Linked DNA regions of Homo sapiens: all the other regions are linked to region 3. Evidence: fine-mapped expression QTL. A gene starts in region 3. Each other region holds a variant in brackets. All regions are shown on one strand. Distances are from middle to middle.

Evidence for each region. PIP is the estimated chance that this variant, and not a neighbour inherited with it, causes the effect.
Region 1: its variant is the best candidate, but not a certain one, in a credible set for the expression of LGALS3 in nasal epithelium (TOPMed, PIP 0.63).
Region 2: its variant is the best candidate, but not a certain one, in a credible set for the expression of LGALS3 in tibial artery (GTEx, PIP 0.89).
Region 4: its variant is the best candidate, but not a certain one, in a credible set for the expression of LGALS3 in esophagus muscle (GTEx, PIP 0.65).

What each region holds. Positions count from the first base shown.
Region 1 is chr14:55,101,580-55,105,799 of GRCh38, reverse strand. It overlaps LOC124903318 (a long non-coding RNA gene), which reads left to right and starts at 2,471. Exons shown (of 3, transcript XR_007064178.1): 1 at 2,471-2,659. RefSeq lists an enhancer at 2,355-2,649 and a cis regulatory region at 2,125-2,803. The variant A/G (reference allele first, on the strand shown) is at 1,669.
Region 2 is chr14:55,368,169-55,372,168 of GRCh38, reverse strand. It overlaps ATG14 (autophagy related 14), which reads left to right. Exons shown (of 10, transcript NM_014924.5): 10 at 2,244-4,000. The coding sequence ends at 2,550. It also overlaps a transcript of FBXO34 not described here. Among named protein-coding and RNA genes, the nearest start is that of ATG14, 42 kb to the left of the region's middle. The variant A/G (reference allele first, on the strand shown) is at 1,844.
Region 3 is chr14:55,126,758-55,130,977 of GRCh38, reverse strand. LGALS3 (galectin 3) reads right to left here and starts at 1,726. Exons shown (of 6, transcript NM_002306.4): 1 at 1,678-1,726. RefSeq lists an enhancer at 891-1,080 and a silencer at 1,431-2,030.
Region 4 is chr14:55,719,560-55,723,779 of GRCh38, reverse strand. It overlaps LOC124903320 (a long non-coding RNA gene), which reads right to left. Exons shown (of 2, transcript XR_007064179.1): 2 at 2,045-2,357. Among named protein-coding and RNA genes, the nearest start is that of LINC00520, 75 kb to the left of the region's middle. The variant A/T (reference allele first, on the strand shown) is at 1,601.

The sequences.
Region 1 (4,220 bases), 25 kb after region 3:
GAGAGAGAGGCAGGGAGGAAAGAAGGAAGGGCCCAGAAAGCTTCAATCCAAGATTTGCTCAAAAGACTGCCAGCAAAAGTTATGTGCCAGCATTATTATAATTTGGTACCTAGCACAGCAACACATTGTGTTTTCAGTTATAGGTTTTTAAATTTTTTTATTTTCATTTTTGTTTATTCTTTTGAGACAGAGTCTCTTAAGCCTCCCAGGTTCAAGTGATTCTCCTGCTTCAGCCTCCCAAGTAGCTGGGATTACAGGTGTCTGCCACCATGCCTGGCTAATTTTTGTATTTTTTTTTTTTTTTTAGTAGAGAGGAATTTCACCATGTTGGCCAGGCTGGTCTTGAACTCCTGACCGCAAGTGATCCACCCGCCTTGGCCTCCCCAAGTACTCGGATTACAGGCATGAACCACCAGGTTAAAGAAAAAAAATTTTTTTTAATGGAGGCTGGGTGCAGTGGCATACTCCTATAATCCCAGCACTTCGGGAGGCTGAGGCAGGAGGATCACATGAGCCCAAGAGTTTGAGACCAGCCTGGCCAATACAGTGAGACCCCCATCTCTAGTTTTAAAAAATAAAAATAATAAAATAATAAAAATAATGGAGATAGGGACTCCCTACATTGCTCAGGCTGGTCCTGAACTCCTGGGCTCAAGTGATCCTCCCACCTCAGCCTCCCAAAGTGTTGGGATTATAGGCATGAGCCACCATACCTAGGCTGTTTTTAATTATAGTTAAAAAAAATTTTTAAATCAAATCCAAGTATATTTAAATATAAAATTCAAATCAAATGTATTAAAAAGATGAAATTCAAATCACCAGTGACCTCACAATCACTCCTGGCAGTCTTCAAGAAATCATGGAAAACTGAAGAAGTGGTAGGTGACCAGGGATGAACAAATGACCTGAATGTCGAACCAGTGGAAAAGTCAAGCACAGCATGCCTGGTCCCATGGAGAACACACAGGCTTGATGAGTAGATAGCAACCTAGGTTCACATCCTAACTCTGCCAGTTACCTGAGGTCCTGCAACTAGCGCCTTGCCAAATCCACAGCCCCAGTTGCCTTGTCTGTAAAACGGGTACAAGGCCATCTGCCTCAGAGTTGGTGGCAGATTGAGAAGATAGCTAAAATTTCCAGTACAGTTAGCCAGCCCCCAGCCAAATGTTAGGTTTCTTTTCTGCTCTATTCCATAATGCTATACAATATGCTGGATTTAGAGAGGATATGCCCGCCTTCAGGAAGGCATGCCTTCTGACTGTTTTTCCAGAGGCAAAGATGAATTTTTATCTCACCATCCACAACCACACGTGGCCCTCATTGCTTGAATGAGACATTCCAGATGTCAATGATACCGTACACAGGCCCCTGATAGAAGCATTCCACACAACTGGAGGTGCTAGCCATCCTTGCCTTGTAGAGAAAATGATCAGAATGTGAGTGGAGCAGGCCAGTCACCCTACTTCCTGCTTCCACCACTATAGGAGCAGAACATAAATGTGTCAAAGAAGGGAAGGAGCTGCTCTTGCCTTGCTGGGTTTCTCCTTCCTTCTCTTTTCTGTTGCTCCCAGCCCAGCTCAGGAAGTAGGAGAAAAATAACCAAAGGCAAGGAGACAGAAAGCATCTATTTCCCCATTCTTTGACCACAGGAGTGAAAACAAGTGTCTC[A/G]TTGCTAATTAAATGTCAGGTTGGTGATGTCCTGGTGGGGTGGTGTGTACACTTTGGAGACAGGTGTGGCTGTCACACCAGGGTGTTAGTCTCAGTGTTTTTCAGTGGAAGCTCCCCAACTTGATCTGTCTGAAGCATTTACTCATAGGGACCAGAATTTAGGTCTCAGGGTCCAGTGTCCCCTTTCAGATCATGACCTCAAAGAAATGGTTTTGAACTGCAAGGAAAACAAGCCAGGCTACCAAGGCTTGTCTGTGAGTCTTCAGGTGCCAGGAAGCCTGCCTCTCAGGTGCTGCTGATCTCTAATAACCTGGATTTTCGTCTTCCAGTTTCAGAGATCTAAACCACTCATGCCCTGAAAATATCTCAATTCCAAAGCATTTCTCTTTGCCTGGGTAAACTGGGGTATAAACAGCTACCTTCTGCTTTGATAAATTCTGTTCAGCTAGGAATTCGAAGACACCAGAAACATGGAAAAGACTTGCTGAGAAGTCACTGCCCCATAACTTTTTCCTGATCTTAAGGGTCAGCCCAGGGCTAAGCTGACCCTGTATAGCACTGACTGGCCTTATGTGCTGGCACTGGGGCTGCATTCACCTTTATATTTCACGCTCACAGAGTAGGGAATGCTTCTGTGAACTGGCCTTGAAAAAGCTTTACAGAATCCACAGTCTAGATGTTCTCTGCCTGTCCTGTTTGCCTGTTATGTTTCAAGAATGTGACCCGACAGCCTCCACACCCAGATGACTCAGCCCTAGCTTTAACGAGTGTTTTTGAGGCCTTTCTGGGGCAGGGCCTCTTCAGTCATGTCGGCCAGGTGCTCCCCAGGCTAGCACTGCCCCGCCCCTGCGTGATCCGGGATGGGAGTTTGGAAACTGCTCCCCATAGGCGGCCGGAGAGGAACGTGAATCTTTGTCTGTTTCACTCCTCAGCAGCTCACTCTTGGCCCCAGGAGGAAAACGAGAAGGTTAACCAGGCATAACCCGGAGGTGTAAGTCAGAGGTTAGGAAAAACGTTATGTGGTGGGATTGGTTTTAGAGCTGGCCACCTGGCTTCCTGTTGCTTTGAGAAAAAGACAGGTTGATATCAACTAGGGGTTGTGTGAAGAAGCCTGTCTTTTAGCTAATTGGCCTTTGATGTGTGGGACATTCAAGTTGCTCAAAAAACGAAGCCAAAAAATCAAAAATGGCTAAGCTCCTGGGGGTAAAATGGAAGAAATAAATAATACTTAGCAACTCAGAGATTCTCAGAGACTGGCTAAAAAAGAGATGGAGGAGAAAAAAAGATTCCTGTGCTCTAGAGCCATGACAAAACTGGATAAACAGCCTCAGAAGAGATATTAATGAGTTATCTTTAAATGTGTGCTCCTTTTTGAAAAGGAATTGCTTAGGGAAGGTGTATGTCTTAATTACTACTCTTACTAAATGGGAAAACTTTAGCCGATTCTTGCTCTTTGGTAAAGATGATTAGGTGTTAAAAATTCAGGCCTCCTTGCAAAAATGCAAATACACTCCATTTATTAGTGAGCTGTAACAAAAGCAGACTTAAACAATAATTTTTATGAAAAGAGATGAAATGCAAATGCAATTCACACATTCACCAATGATTCTTCGGTTTGCTGCACGTTGTCTGTGAATCATCTAACACGAAACAGCTGTAAGGCCTCTCTGCTCTAAGGACATAATGAGTTCTGCCAGGAACTGCAACCCAGCTTGTGGTCTAGTTGTTGACAGAATTTGCATAATACGTGCTCTTGCCAACCAGGCCTACCCTACAGGGTCGCTATTCATGCCCTCCTGCAGGCCCTGGGTGGACGTATTTGGGGCTGGCTCTGGCCCCAGCAGGAAGCACAGGCCTCCCGGTTGCTCTTGCCAAAGTGTTGCCTGATTCCTGGCCACACTCATAGGTTTGTTTGCTTTGTTGGAGGAGGGCCTTTTAATCTGATATAATTTCAATGTTGCAGAAAAATTACAAGAACAATGGAAGGAATTCCTACAATCCTTTATCCAGAGTCACTGATGGTTTCCATTTTTGTCTTAACATTCTCTATCCATAAATATGTATGTGTGATATATATATGTATATATAGCAACATTTAAGAGTAAATTGTTGGTTGAGCACAGTGGCTCATGGCTGTAATTGCAGCACTTTGGGAGGCCAAGGCAGGAGGATTGCTTGAGGTCATGAGTTTGAGACCAGCCTGGGCAACATAGGGAGACCCCTGTCTCCACCCAAAATAAAAAAGTTAGCTGGACGTGGTGGCATGTGCCTGCGGTCCCAGCTATTCAGGAGGCTGAGGTGGGAGGATCACTTAGGCCCAGGAGGTTGAGGTTGCGTTGCAGAGTGAGCCATGATCGTGCCACTATACTCCAGCCTGGGCAACAGAGCGAGACCTGTCTCAAAAAAAATAAAAAGTAACTTGAAAACTTCAGTGTGCTTTTTTTTTTTCTTTTTTTTTGAGATGGAGTCTCACTCTGTTGCCCAGGCTGGAGTGCAGTGGCACAATCTCGGCTCACTGCAACCTCTGCTTCCTGGGTTCGGGTGATTCTCCT
Region 2 (4,000 bases), 240 kb before region 3:
CCAGCCAGCTAAAGTTTTGAGACTGGTTCAGATATGTGAGATGAGCCTGAGGGTTTAGTAACCAGAGGATATTTGGGAGTGGCGCTAGGAGAGGAATCGGAAAAGATGGCTCTAGAGTAGAACTGTTTGCCAAGGAAAAGAAAAAGGGGAGAAAAGAAATGAAGTGCAAGGAGAAACTTGAGAAGAGGGTGCTCAGAGCTAAAAACTGCAGTGGCCATTAGTTTGCTGGCAGAGAAATTCAAGGGGCAGTAGAAAGTCCTACTCCTTTCACCCTTGCAAAATACTGACTTCTGGGCAGGGTGGGGCCTAGTAAACTTGAGAGCACCCCTAGTCTGAGGGGCTCTTTGTTTTTTTGTTTGTTTTTTGAGACAGAGTCTCGCTCTGTCGCCCAGGCTAGAGTGCACTGGCGCCATCTCGGCTCACTGCAAGCTCCGCCTCTGGGGTTCACACCGTTCTCCTGCCTCAGCCTCCTGAGTAGCCGGGACTACAGGTGCCCGCCATCACACCCAGCTAATTTTTTGTATTTTTAGTAGAGACAGGGTTTCACTGTGTTAGCCAATGGTCTCGATCTCCTGACCTCGTGATCTGCCCGCCGCAGCCTCCCAAAGTGCTGGGATTACAGGTGTGAGCCACCGCGCCCGGCCTGAGGGGCTCTTGGAAAATGTAAATTGCTCACTGGAGACCAAGTGGGAAACCCCATGGCGTATCTTCCAATTTAATAAAGCCCTAAAAACAGTCCCTGGAGCATAAATGTTAGCTATTATTATTGCTTAATCCATCTGGGAAGCACAGGTGTCTGGGAGGAATGAGGGCTGCTTGCTTCTGTAAAAAGTGAGTCAACGGTGCAGACCTGGTGAGGTGCGTTGGAAGCCAGTGCTAGCCATTCATCATTGTGAAGGCTGTGGAGAATTTGGGACCATAGGCTGAAATGGCAAGCTATACGATTCTAGGCTCTCATTTCTGCCTGCTATTTATTTCGACCTCTCCTATTTTCCCCAAAGTCGTTATCAGTGAAACCCTTAAATGAACCAAGGCATCGTGTGCTTATCTTGGGGGCAGCAGCAGGGAGAGAGCGGCACCTTGGTCCCACCCTGTAGCTGGTTGCAGGGCAGTTCCCTGGAAGGCAGTGGGTGGGGGTGGCTGCCTACAGGGAGGACATGCAGCCTGGCTGCCCTGGAGCAGGAGCTGAGGGGCATTTGAAAGGGAGGGGAAAAAGAAGCAGAAAGGCGGCCGGGCGTGGTGGCTCACAACTGTAATCTCAGCGTTTTGAGAGGCAGGGGTGGGTGGATCACTTGAGGTCAGGAGTTCAAGACCAGCCTGGCCAACGTGGTGAAACCCCGTCTCTACTAAAAATACAAAAATTAGCCGGGCATGGTGGCAGGTGCCTGTAATCCCAGCTACTCAGGAGGTTGAGGCAGGAGAATCGCTTGCACCTGGGCGGTGGAGGTTGCAGGAGCCAAGATGGCGCCACTGCACTCCAGCCTGGGCAACAGAACGAGACTCTGTCTAAATAAAAAAAAAAAGAAATGCAGAAAGGCTTCTGAGGTTTGCTGACTCGGTTCCCTGTGCTGAGGTGCCAGCAAAGAGGATGAGGCCTAAGAAAGGGTTATTGGACTTGGCAGTGAGGGTGTTATTAGGGACCTTTGAGAAATAAAAATTGTTTTCTCCTGAAATACAGTGCAGAAATATACAACATTGCCTCTGAATATATTCTAAACAGTTGTGCCTCATTCTGTGCTAGAAATGTGTCCTAGAAAATTGTGGTGATATTTTTAAATATGTACAGGAACCCACTGAGTTTTCTTTGTATACCATTTATTACTTATTACACTAAATAATATCC[A/G]GAGTATACATCAAGTGGCTTTTTGTTAGAATTGTCTCATTGGAGTGCCGTGTATTTACTTCGTAGACACTGCAGTTCTTTACAACAGGAAGTCAGACTTAGGACCAGCATGGGCCATCTCAGTGAATAGGTTTTTTTCCTATGCACGGTCATCACCAATGAAGTAGGCAGACTTGTGGGAAAGTGTGGTATCATGATTTTATTTATAACTTGGGTGGAGATTATTTGGGTAAAGGAAAACGCAATCATATGTCAACACGGAGTGCTGCATAGACTTGGGGAATGAATGGGGTGTGCGGCGTCCCTCATCCCCTCAGGTGAGGGCCTTCAGGAAGATGGCATATTTTCTGGTGTTGAGAATGGTTGTTATCCTAAAGAGACCCTCATTGTCTGCACACAGGTCAGGGCCCTTTGAAGTACGAGCAGACCTTGAGGAGTCCATGGAATTTGTGGATCCCGGAGTTGCTGGAGAATCAGATGAGAGCGGAGATGAGCGCGTCAGCGATGAAGAAACCGACCTGGGCACAGACTGGGAGAACTTGCCTAGTCCCCGGTTTTGTGATATCCCTTCCCAGTCTGTGGAAGTCTCCCAGAGTCAGAGCACCCAGGCGTCCCCACCCATCGCGAGCAGCAGTGCAGGTGGGATGATCTCCTCTGCAGCAGCCTCGGTGACCTCCTGGTTTAAAGCTTACACTGGACACCGTTAACGAGCATGGACCAAAACATACCAAATCTGCATCAAGAAAGTTCTTCTCCCACTACACTCTAGTAAACATTTTCTGTTTAAGTTAAGATAGTGTCTGGAACAAAGAGGTTAAAGTGTTGTTTTGTTTTGTCTTTTTAAGCAGGGAGACAAACATTTCTATTTGCCAAGTGGCCTGTGATGGTGACCAACATGCTTATGATAATTAAGAGAACAGGGGTCGAAGGTCTTTCTACCCAGACCAGTGCTGGTGGAAGGAGGACCTGTGCGTGTGGCCAGTTCTGCCAAGGAAGCAGTTGATTTGGGTTCCCTCTGGGCCCGGGCCACCGGGCCCACAGATATGGGTCAGTGTGCTGGTCCTTGCGGTGCTGAGACTGTTCCTGACACTTTAAGTTTTAGAGGTTGGTTGAATCACAAGAGGTGATTCTTGATTATTAGGACATGAAAGATAAAAGCTCTTTAATAAGAGTTTTTCTGCCATTGTTTTTTGTATGAGAACCAGCAGGCAATTTAAAATTTCTAATTTGGTCCTTTGATTTTGTTTGGGAGGGGTGAGTTACACGTATTTTATTCATGCTGCTCTGTCGTAGTTTGTCAGACATTCCTGTTTTTCTTTCCCCCACACACCAAAGAAAATGAAAGTCTTTTTCTTTAGGACCCACATCCATAAATGGAAGAAATCCTGGCTGCAATAATGTCTAGAGAGTTTTTAACTATTTTCTTGTATTCTGAGGGGAATTAAGCTTATTCTTACCTAGTTGAATTCCTGCCATCCACACTATGAGCATTTTGAAATTGAACTTATATTTTCTGGGTGAAAATAAGTCATGAAGGTCATTCCCTTATGTAAGCTCAATGCCTGCCTGGGCACAGGGGAAAAGCCACTTAGTTAAGTGGCCTCTGGTCATTCTTGTGGTGTCCACTTTCTTTCTATGGGATTGAGTAGGTGGCAGGTGTTTTCAGGGGAAACCATCCTACTTGTTTCCCCGAACTCTTTGTTGCTCTGAGGACACAGCTTTGCTCAGAAATGCAGCGCAGATCCTTACGGCTGATGCTACTCTGCTCTGTTCTGGGGAAAGCACAATATAAAGAAAGAATTTCCCAGCCAGGCGCAGTGGCTCACGCCTGTAATCCCAGCACTTTAGGAGGCCGAGGCAGGCGGATCACTTGAGGTCAGGAGTTTGAGAGCAGCCTGGCTAACATGGTGAAACCCTGTTTCTACTAAAAATACAAAAAATTACCGGGTGTGGTGGCGCACGCCTGTAATCCCAGCTACTCGGGAGGCTGCGGCAGGAGAATCGCTTGAACCGGGAGGCAGAGGTTGCAGTGAGCCGAGATTGTGCCATTGCACTCCAGCCTGGGCAACAAGAGCGAAACTCCGTCTCAAAAAAAAAAAGAATTTCCCTCAGCAGGAGATCATTTTCAGCTCACGTGTCTTGTCATTCTTTTAGTGA
Region 3 (4,220 bases):
AAAAGGGAGACTATTGTTGTAGAAAAGTAAATGATCATTATTCAACTTTACCTTTTATGGAAACACACAATTTCCTAGTATGAAATGTTTATAAACTTGAGGTAGGCCAGGCGCAGTGGCCCACGCCTATAATCCCAGCACTTTAGGAGGCCGAGGCAGGCGGGTCACCTGAGGTCGGGGGTTCGAGACCAGCCTGACCAACATGGAGGGACCCCCCCCCCCCCACCACCACCACCACGAAAAATACAAAATTAGCCGGGCATGGTGGCGCATGCCTGTAATCCCAGCTACTCGGGAGGCTGAGGCAGGAGAATCGCTTGAACCCGGTAGGCAGAGGTTGCGGTGAGCCGAGATAGTGCCGTTGCACTCCAGCCTGGGCAACAAGAGCGAAACTGCGTCTCAAAAAAAAAAAAAACCTTAGGTAAACAAATCAGAACTTTGGAAGCTGACGAAAGCTTTTTCTTCTCAGGCCCTGTGCCCAAGTAGTTAATTGTATCAGTCTCATTTTCTTCAGAATTAACTGAGCCTTCTCCCATTTCTTCCCCAGAATCCTAGAGACAGCCTGAGTCACTGAGGTCCAGGTGTCCTCATTGCGCAGCAACCCAATTCCCAGAGTCACTTTACAAACATTCCGCAGTCTCTGGAACCCGCATGGCGAACTTGAAGGGTAAGGCTGAAACCTAAGTCCCAGCCTCCACCATGCGTCCCCGACTCCCTGGACCTGAACGCCTACTGCTCAGAGGGCAATCGTTTTAGTGTTTCTATTTGAGCACCCGATAATTCAGAATAAACTCTCAAACATGTTGTGAAAGCCCCCCGGTAGGGCTCTGCACGCTAGGACCAACATTTTGCCACACCCACCATTTCCTGGGCACAGACAGTCTGGGCAGGGAGGGGCATTTGATTCGGAAAAGCTTAGAGTTTGCAGTCTTTGCAAAGCCGGGTCATGCCCACTCAGGCCATGGGGCAAGCACCATTTTCTGTGGGATCAGCAACCAGACAGCGGCTGCAGCCCGGCCGCAGCTGGTCCCGGTGGAAGAACTCATTCGCGCTCCACAGCGAGATCTCCTCCAAGTCCAGCCTCAGCTGATGCTCAAAAGGGGCCGGGCCAGCCAAGCTGTGGGTCCCGGGAGGCGCCCTATGCAGTCCTGGGAAGTCCCTTCGCTCCCCCGCGGCCGTGATCTGGGGAAGGGTGACGGGGCTCCAACCCCAATTAGAGAAACTGGAGCGGCCGTCTGGTTTGCTGAGCGAGCCCCTCCGCCTCCCCTCGCAGCGGGACCTGGTGGGACTGGGGTGACCAGACTGCGGCTCGTCACCGGATGGGGCTTACTCTGGGGCCGCAGAGCGCAGGCGGCGGAGGTGCGACGGCGGCGAAGCCCACGAGGCTCCGCAGAAGGTGGCCCGTGCCGCCCCGGGGACGTGTGTGGGTCTCGTAAGGTGCTGCCAACCTTCCCCGAACGCCAGCGCCCTCGATAATCAAAGGCGACTGCCCCGGGCCCAGATCGCTGCCCGCCGCCCCGCTCCTGGAGGGCAGAGCACAGGCTGTGGGGCTCTCCGCGCGCGCCCCGGCCCGGTCCCGGGGAGCCGAACCCTCTCCGGACCGCGCCCCAAGCAGCGCCCGGGCGCCCTCTCCCCTGCCCGGCCGGAGCCGCGTCCCCCGCGCCCCGCGCAGCTCACCGCTCGTTGGCTGGCTCCGGACGGCTGCTGGCGAGGAGGTGCTGCGGGCGCCGGCGGGGCGGTGGCTCCGAGCCTCAAATACTCCCAGCCCCGCCCGGCCCGCCTCTCCCGAGGCGGGGCGGCGCCCCTGCCCAGCCAGTCCTCTCCCCGGACCAGGCTGGGCGAGCCCCGCGCCGGCCAGACACCCCGAGCCGCCGCCGCAGGGGCGACCAGGAAGCTCCCGACGGGGAGAGCGCGGGCACTGAGGGGCGCGACCTCCGCTGCCACCGTTAGGTTCCGTGGCGCTCCCGGGACCTGGGCTGCGGCCGCGTCTGTCCCCCGCCCTCTCCAGAATCACCTGAGTGAAGAATTCGCTGAGAGGAATTCAATTAATAGGTTGCTTTATTTGTAGAATACAAAACCAAAAATCTTTTCAATGTCTATTCCCTAGGGAACTGACTACAAATTGACTACTTATTCTAGATCAATAGGCCTAGTCTCAAAGCAATTCCCTTATAAAGCAATTAATCAGACAACTCTTTAACACATTTTACACAGGAAATTCACATTATATATATATATACCCTCCTTTTAACTTCACCTTATCTTTTTGTTGGAAGAAAGAGATAAGTATTATTATCTCATTTTTACTGTCAGGGTGCTATAGTCTGAATGTTTATATCCCGCCAAAGTTCATATGTTGAAATCCTAACCCTCACGGTGATGTATTAGGAAGTGGAGGCCTTGGGAAGTGATTAGGTCATAGGGGCAGGGTCCTTATGAATGAGATTGGTGCCCTAATAAAAGAGGCCGGAGAGAGACCCCTTGCCACTTCCACCTTGTGAAGACACAGCCAGAAGGCTCCCTCTGTGAACCAGAAAGCAGGCCCTCACCAGACATCAAATCTGCTGGCCTGGATCTTGGATTTCCCGACCTTCAGAACTGTGGGAAATAAATGTATATTGCCTATAAGCTACCCAGTTTATGATATTTTGTTACAGAAGCCCAAACAGACTAAAAGAGAAAATGATTTACTTATCCAAGCTCACTCATGTCTAGGAACAAAATCCAGAAATCCTGGCTCTTACACTTTACCTGGAAAAGCACCAGGCCAAAGAATCCTTGCAGGTTGGAACAAGGATCTCTGAGGAAAAAAAAAAAAATTAAGGGGGGTAGGGGAAGAATCTTTGCAGGGACTGGCTTATGTAAACTATGGAGAAAACCAGGTATCATCTGGTTCCTAAATAATTCCTGTAGCCCTTATAGTAACCAATTAATAACATAAAGATAAATTATTTCCTGCAGTTTTTCAACTTAGGGAAATGTTCCTGTGAAGGACTCACTTGATGGAATTGAGAAGCTGTCTTGGCATTCTCTAGGATAAACTTGAAAGTGTCTTAGTGGTTGGCACGGTTCCTGCAACATCGTCCCCTCTAGGCTTGCACATAGAAGTCACAGTGTGGCTGGGGATTATTTATGCAAGTTTGAACTCTTATCTGAAGAGGTAGCCTGGCAACCAATTTATTTGAATGGATCACCCATAGTAAATGACTAACCTCTGGGTAGTAAAAAGGTATCACCCAAAGGAATGCCCTTGGTCTCCAGGGAAAATGCTATAAATCTTAAGACTTTGAGTCATGAGGCCTCATGGCCAGGAGTGGTACCCTTAGAGGGTTAGCCATTGGTAATAAGAAAAGTAGATAGCCAAATGAATTGCTGTGGAGGCAAGGGATGAATCACACTCTTGCCTTTTCTTCTGGTCATTTCAGAGATAGACAAAGTTCATGCCCTGGCTACTTAGGGGGCTTGCTTACACCTGATTGTATGATCAGACATGCTTTTGGCTTCCCTTCCTTACTTGTACATCCCCATGAATACTTTGGTGCCAACTTCATGCCCCATAAAGCTAACAAAAGGATCCTGCTATGATCAGGGTGTGCCTGGGAATTTATAATTTGTACACATGCAATAAACGGCTCTTTATTACCCAATCCAAAGTCACATCCCTTTTCTAAGATAAGCGTAAAAAGGAACCCAATAAAATCAATTAAGATATCATTGAGTAACTTCTATGTACAGCTCACTGTGTTATTTGAAATAGGGACAAGGCAAGTGTTAGCCCTCAAACAAAAAGGCTGTCTGGTTTCTACGGATGCAGAGATTGTAAGCCGCTGATAAAAGCAAGGATTCTAAGAGAGGCATCTCCACAGGAGGGAAAGGAGGAAACTTGGGAAAGCAGGTGGCTGTCCAGAAGGTCAGGAGGGAAGCTGCGTGAGAACTTCAGTTAGAGCCAGAAGAGAGTAGGAGATGAAGATGAGAACAAAAAGGGAAAGTCTTTAAGGATAAGCAGAAAAGAGAAAGAAAGACAGTAATTGGAGAAGAAAGCAGAGCCGATTATTTATTTATTTATTTTATTTTTTTGAGACGGAGTTTTGCTCGGCTCACCGCAACCTCCACTCCCAGGTTCAAGTGATTCTCCTCCTGCCTCAGCCTCCCCAGTAGCTGGGATTACAGGCATGCACCACCACCCTGGCCAATTTTTAGTAGAGATGGGGTTTCTCCAC
Region 4 (4,220 bases), 590 kb before region 3:
CTCTGCACACAGTAGTCTGCACGTGCAGGACAGGCTACTTTTCCTCCTCTTTCATCTTCCCATCTCACACTCCCAGGTGAGGATCTTGGGATTCTTTGCTTAGCTCTGTCTATGAGTTTTTCACTTACTTTTCTAGAGTTTAGTCTCTCCAAAAATAAAACATTGTATATATACGTACATGCACACACACACACACACACCCCTTTCATTTTATCTGTCACTCAGCTAATACTTATTAAATACTATTATTATCCCTATTTTACAAATTGGATAAGTAAAACATAAGGCAAGGGGGATCTCTGTCAGCACCCTCAATTTTTTTAGCAAATATTTAATCAAATGTAATTAGCATTATGGAGTCAGGCCCTATGTTAGATATTGAATATTCAGGGCTGAATAAGACATGGAATGGTCTTAGAATGGAAGAAGGCGGTGGGAGTCATGAGTTATTCATGAGAGATTAAATAAGTTCCCAAGATCACATGTTAGCATATACATATCTACCTTTTAACAGCTGATAGTACTTGACAGTGTTGATATATTACAGTTTACCTAACCATTCCCATTGTGATGGACATTTTCAACTTGTGATTATGTTTTTACCATCACAAACAAGAAACATCCTCTCACAAAGATCTTGGCATACATGTGTAGCTACAATTTGCAGGATGAATTCTTAAAATTGGATTGCTAGGACAAAGTGTAGAGCAATTTAAATTTTGATAGATCATGTGAAATATATCTTTCGGGAAGTTCTTGCTGATTGATGCTCCTGCCCTTGGGGAATGAACATGCTGTGTCCCCAGAACCTCTTCTACACCTCGCCCTTAACCTGCAACAGCTGTGCCTCAGATCCGTGTGTACCAAACACATTCCCAAGAATAGTCTCATTGAGCACCGTTTGGGAAGGGCTGCCATGTGGACAGCACCCCACTTTTTTGTCCCTGATGGTTTAATGCTTTATGTTTTCACACAGAGTGCATTTGGGGAGACTGGCTGGAGGCGGGCTTTGTTCTGCTCTGAACAACACAAGGACAATTCATCTATCTGAAAGGTAACTTGTATATTGATCCAGAAACATTGCAGGAGTGTAGCTTTTTCATTGATTATTTGATAATGGGTCATTTCATTTTTATCTACTCTGACTTCTCTAACTCAGATAAAAAAACAGGTAACCCTGAGCACATAATTCATCTCAATGGAAAGCATTTTCCTGCCAATTTACATTAGCTCAAAAAGTGGCCCTGCAAACCTCTAAGTCATTCAGAACAATACATTCCAGAGATGGTCCTTCCAACCTGCCTTATTCTTGTTTAACATTTGGGCAAGAAACTAAGCGAGCATTTAGTTTGAAGCAAATTGCATCTCATATTTCCTTGGAATGAGGCAAAAGCAAATCTGAACCATCTTTCAATGGAATGAGCCCACACTGACAAGAGCACTTGTAATCGCTTCCATTGTGTATTCTTAGCCAATTTACAACTACATTCATTGAATTAATAACGATCAGCTGGGACTCGCAAAGGCCTAATACCCAGGGCTCCCTTCTGGGGCTGCTGGCCTGACATTTAAATATTTATTGATGATAATTGGATGACAG[A/T]TAGGGATGGGCTCAGACAGAAATAAATTCAATCTGCTTGCACAGGCAGAAACCACGTTATAGCCATGATTCCTCCTCAGGCCACATAGATACAGTACCAAGAGAAATGAAGGTGAAGAGTCCTCTGATAAGCTGTGAAAACTAAGACAACGATTCTTATGATTATTTGCATGGTTGAAAGACAACTCCTTAAGACTAATTTTTGTTTTTGTTTTTTTTTAATGTGTGTTTTTGTTTGTTTGCTTGTTTTACCAAACTGTCAATAAAGACACGAGAATTTAGAATTCAAGACTTTGCTTTCTTGGATTCTGGGTTTTCCTTCCTATTCTAAAAATGTTTGAAATGGGCACCAAGTATTCAATCTGTGTACAGATCATTAAGATTTTGTGTTTAAGATCTGCCAGGTTATGGTGCAGTAACAAAGAACCCCCAGATCTCAATAACTGAAAACCACAAAGGTTTTTATTTCATGTTCTACACCACAGGTCCCTCTCAGGCTGGCAGGGCATTCTGCCCAGCACAGTCACTCAAGGACACAGGCTGATGGAGCAGCCAATCACCACTTCCCGGGGGAAAAGGAGAGCTCTGGAGAATCTTGCATCAGCAAGGAAATGGTCTGGCCTGGAAGCAAACCACACTAACCATGACCACAGAGGACCTGCTTAAGATTGCTCTGACCTTAGGTCCTTTCTCTGCTTCTCACTAACCATGTGGCTTGAACATGTCACTACAACTCTTGGAGGCTCAGATTCCTTATCTGAAAAATGAGAACAATACAAGTTAGTCATCAAATTGCCCTGAAGGATAAATGAGATAATAAATATATAGAACCACATACTAGAGGCTCAATAAATGACAGTATTTTGGGGTTTTTTTTAACATGTTAAAGAAAAGACTTCCATGGAACCCAGTGGGCTCACAAGGATGTGTGCTTTTGCTCACTTGCACCACATTATACACAAAATTCTTGAAAATATATAATAAGCCACGATACGTACATGTCTCAAGGCTCTCACTGCCACAAACTGTAGTTTCTGACAGTTTAATTTTGTATGTAGGAAAAGGTAACCTGCAAGTAACTGAAGAATTCACCCAGAGTTGTTCCATAATCAAGAAGGTGTAACACCCAACTTTGTGTCTCCTGACTTCCACTGTAATCTACCATCTCATTGCTATGCGCTTCCTTTCCCGCATGTGGGAGAGAAGGAAGAACAGTATACTATGCCCCAGGACAACATCTTTCACAGCAGGCTTTTAGACAAGAATCAGGTAAGTCCAAAGGTTATTGTCATTATTTATATGCAATGATCACTCTTCACAGCTGTATTTTCTATGATAACTAAGAAAAATTAAAGAGATCAAAAAATGATTACAATTATAATTATGGCTCACATTTACTGAGAATTTACCCTGTGCCACTTCCTATTTTATGAACTTTTTAGGATTATCTCATTTAATCCTCACACTAACCCTAAAAGGTGGGTTACATTATTATCCCATTTCGCAGGTGAGAGAACTGAGACACCCTGAGGTGAAGTGTCTTGCCCAAGGTCTCCTGTACAGTAAGTGGCAGAGTTAGGATTCAATCTCAGGATATTGTATTTTGGAGGCCATGTTCTTAAACTCCTCAGGATGGCTATAATATACAGTTATTATTTTGAAATCTCACTTACCAGAAAAAGGAAATGATGGCTAATACAATTGCTCTATAGGTTAAAGGACTGTGCTAAGAACCAGAGGTTCATTCATATTGTTTTATTCTCATCCATGATTACACTCACCATCTCCCTAGCAGCAGATAATTAAACAGCAGGAAAGTTCTTGAGCAGATAAAGAAAGATCAGAAGGATAGGGTAAGATTGGAACATAGAGAATATGATCAACTGATATTTACTGAATGAGTGAATGGGAAATTCATCATCACTAATTGAAGAAAACTCAAACTATTAGTAGTCAACTGCATTCCTTTTATAAATGAAATTCATTATTTCAACTGTGTCAGCCCTTCAACACAAGCTACGCATGCCAGATTCTGCATATTGAACCTCATTGTACCACCGATTTTTTTTTTTAATAAACCAAGAAAGACAGTTTATGGAACAGAGTGTTTTTAGGAAGTGTCATAGGGTGGAGGAAAGAGAAGGAACTCCTGCCCGTCTTCAGGGAGAGAAAAAAGTCCCCGTGGATGGAACAGGAGGGCTCCATCAGGCCTGAGAGGTACTTTTGCAATGTTATGGGACCAATAAATTAGAAAGGTAATTTAGTACCTATTATTTGATTTCTCACCTAAAGGAAATTGTAAAATTTCAAATCTGTGAATTTCAGGTAGGACCAAGTCATTTGTACTTCCCCAAGATGTCACAGCTTATGCTCTATCAAACAAAACAAATCTCTTTCCAGATGAAGACAACAGCATTAAATGTAATTCTCTGTGTGTTTTAAAATGAATAACCAATTAGCAATTATTCAGTCATGAACAAACAGAACTTACTCTGTTCCTCTTCCTGAATTCTCAGAAATACTTGGAATTTAATGGGATGTAATTTATGAGACAAAGCCCATTTTTTCTTTCACATGACAAAATGGACTGCAATGAACAATTTCTGTGATCACAGAGAAT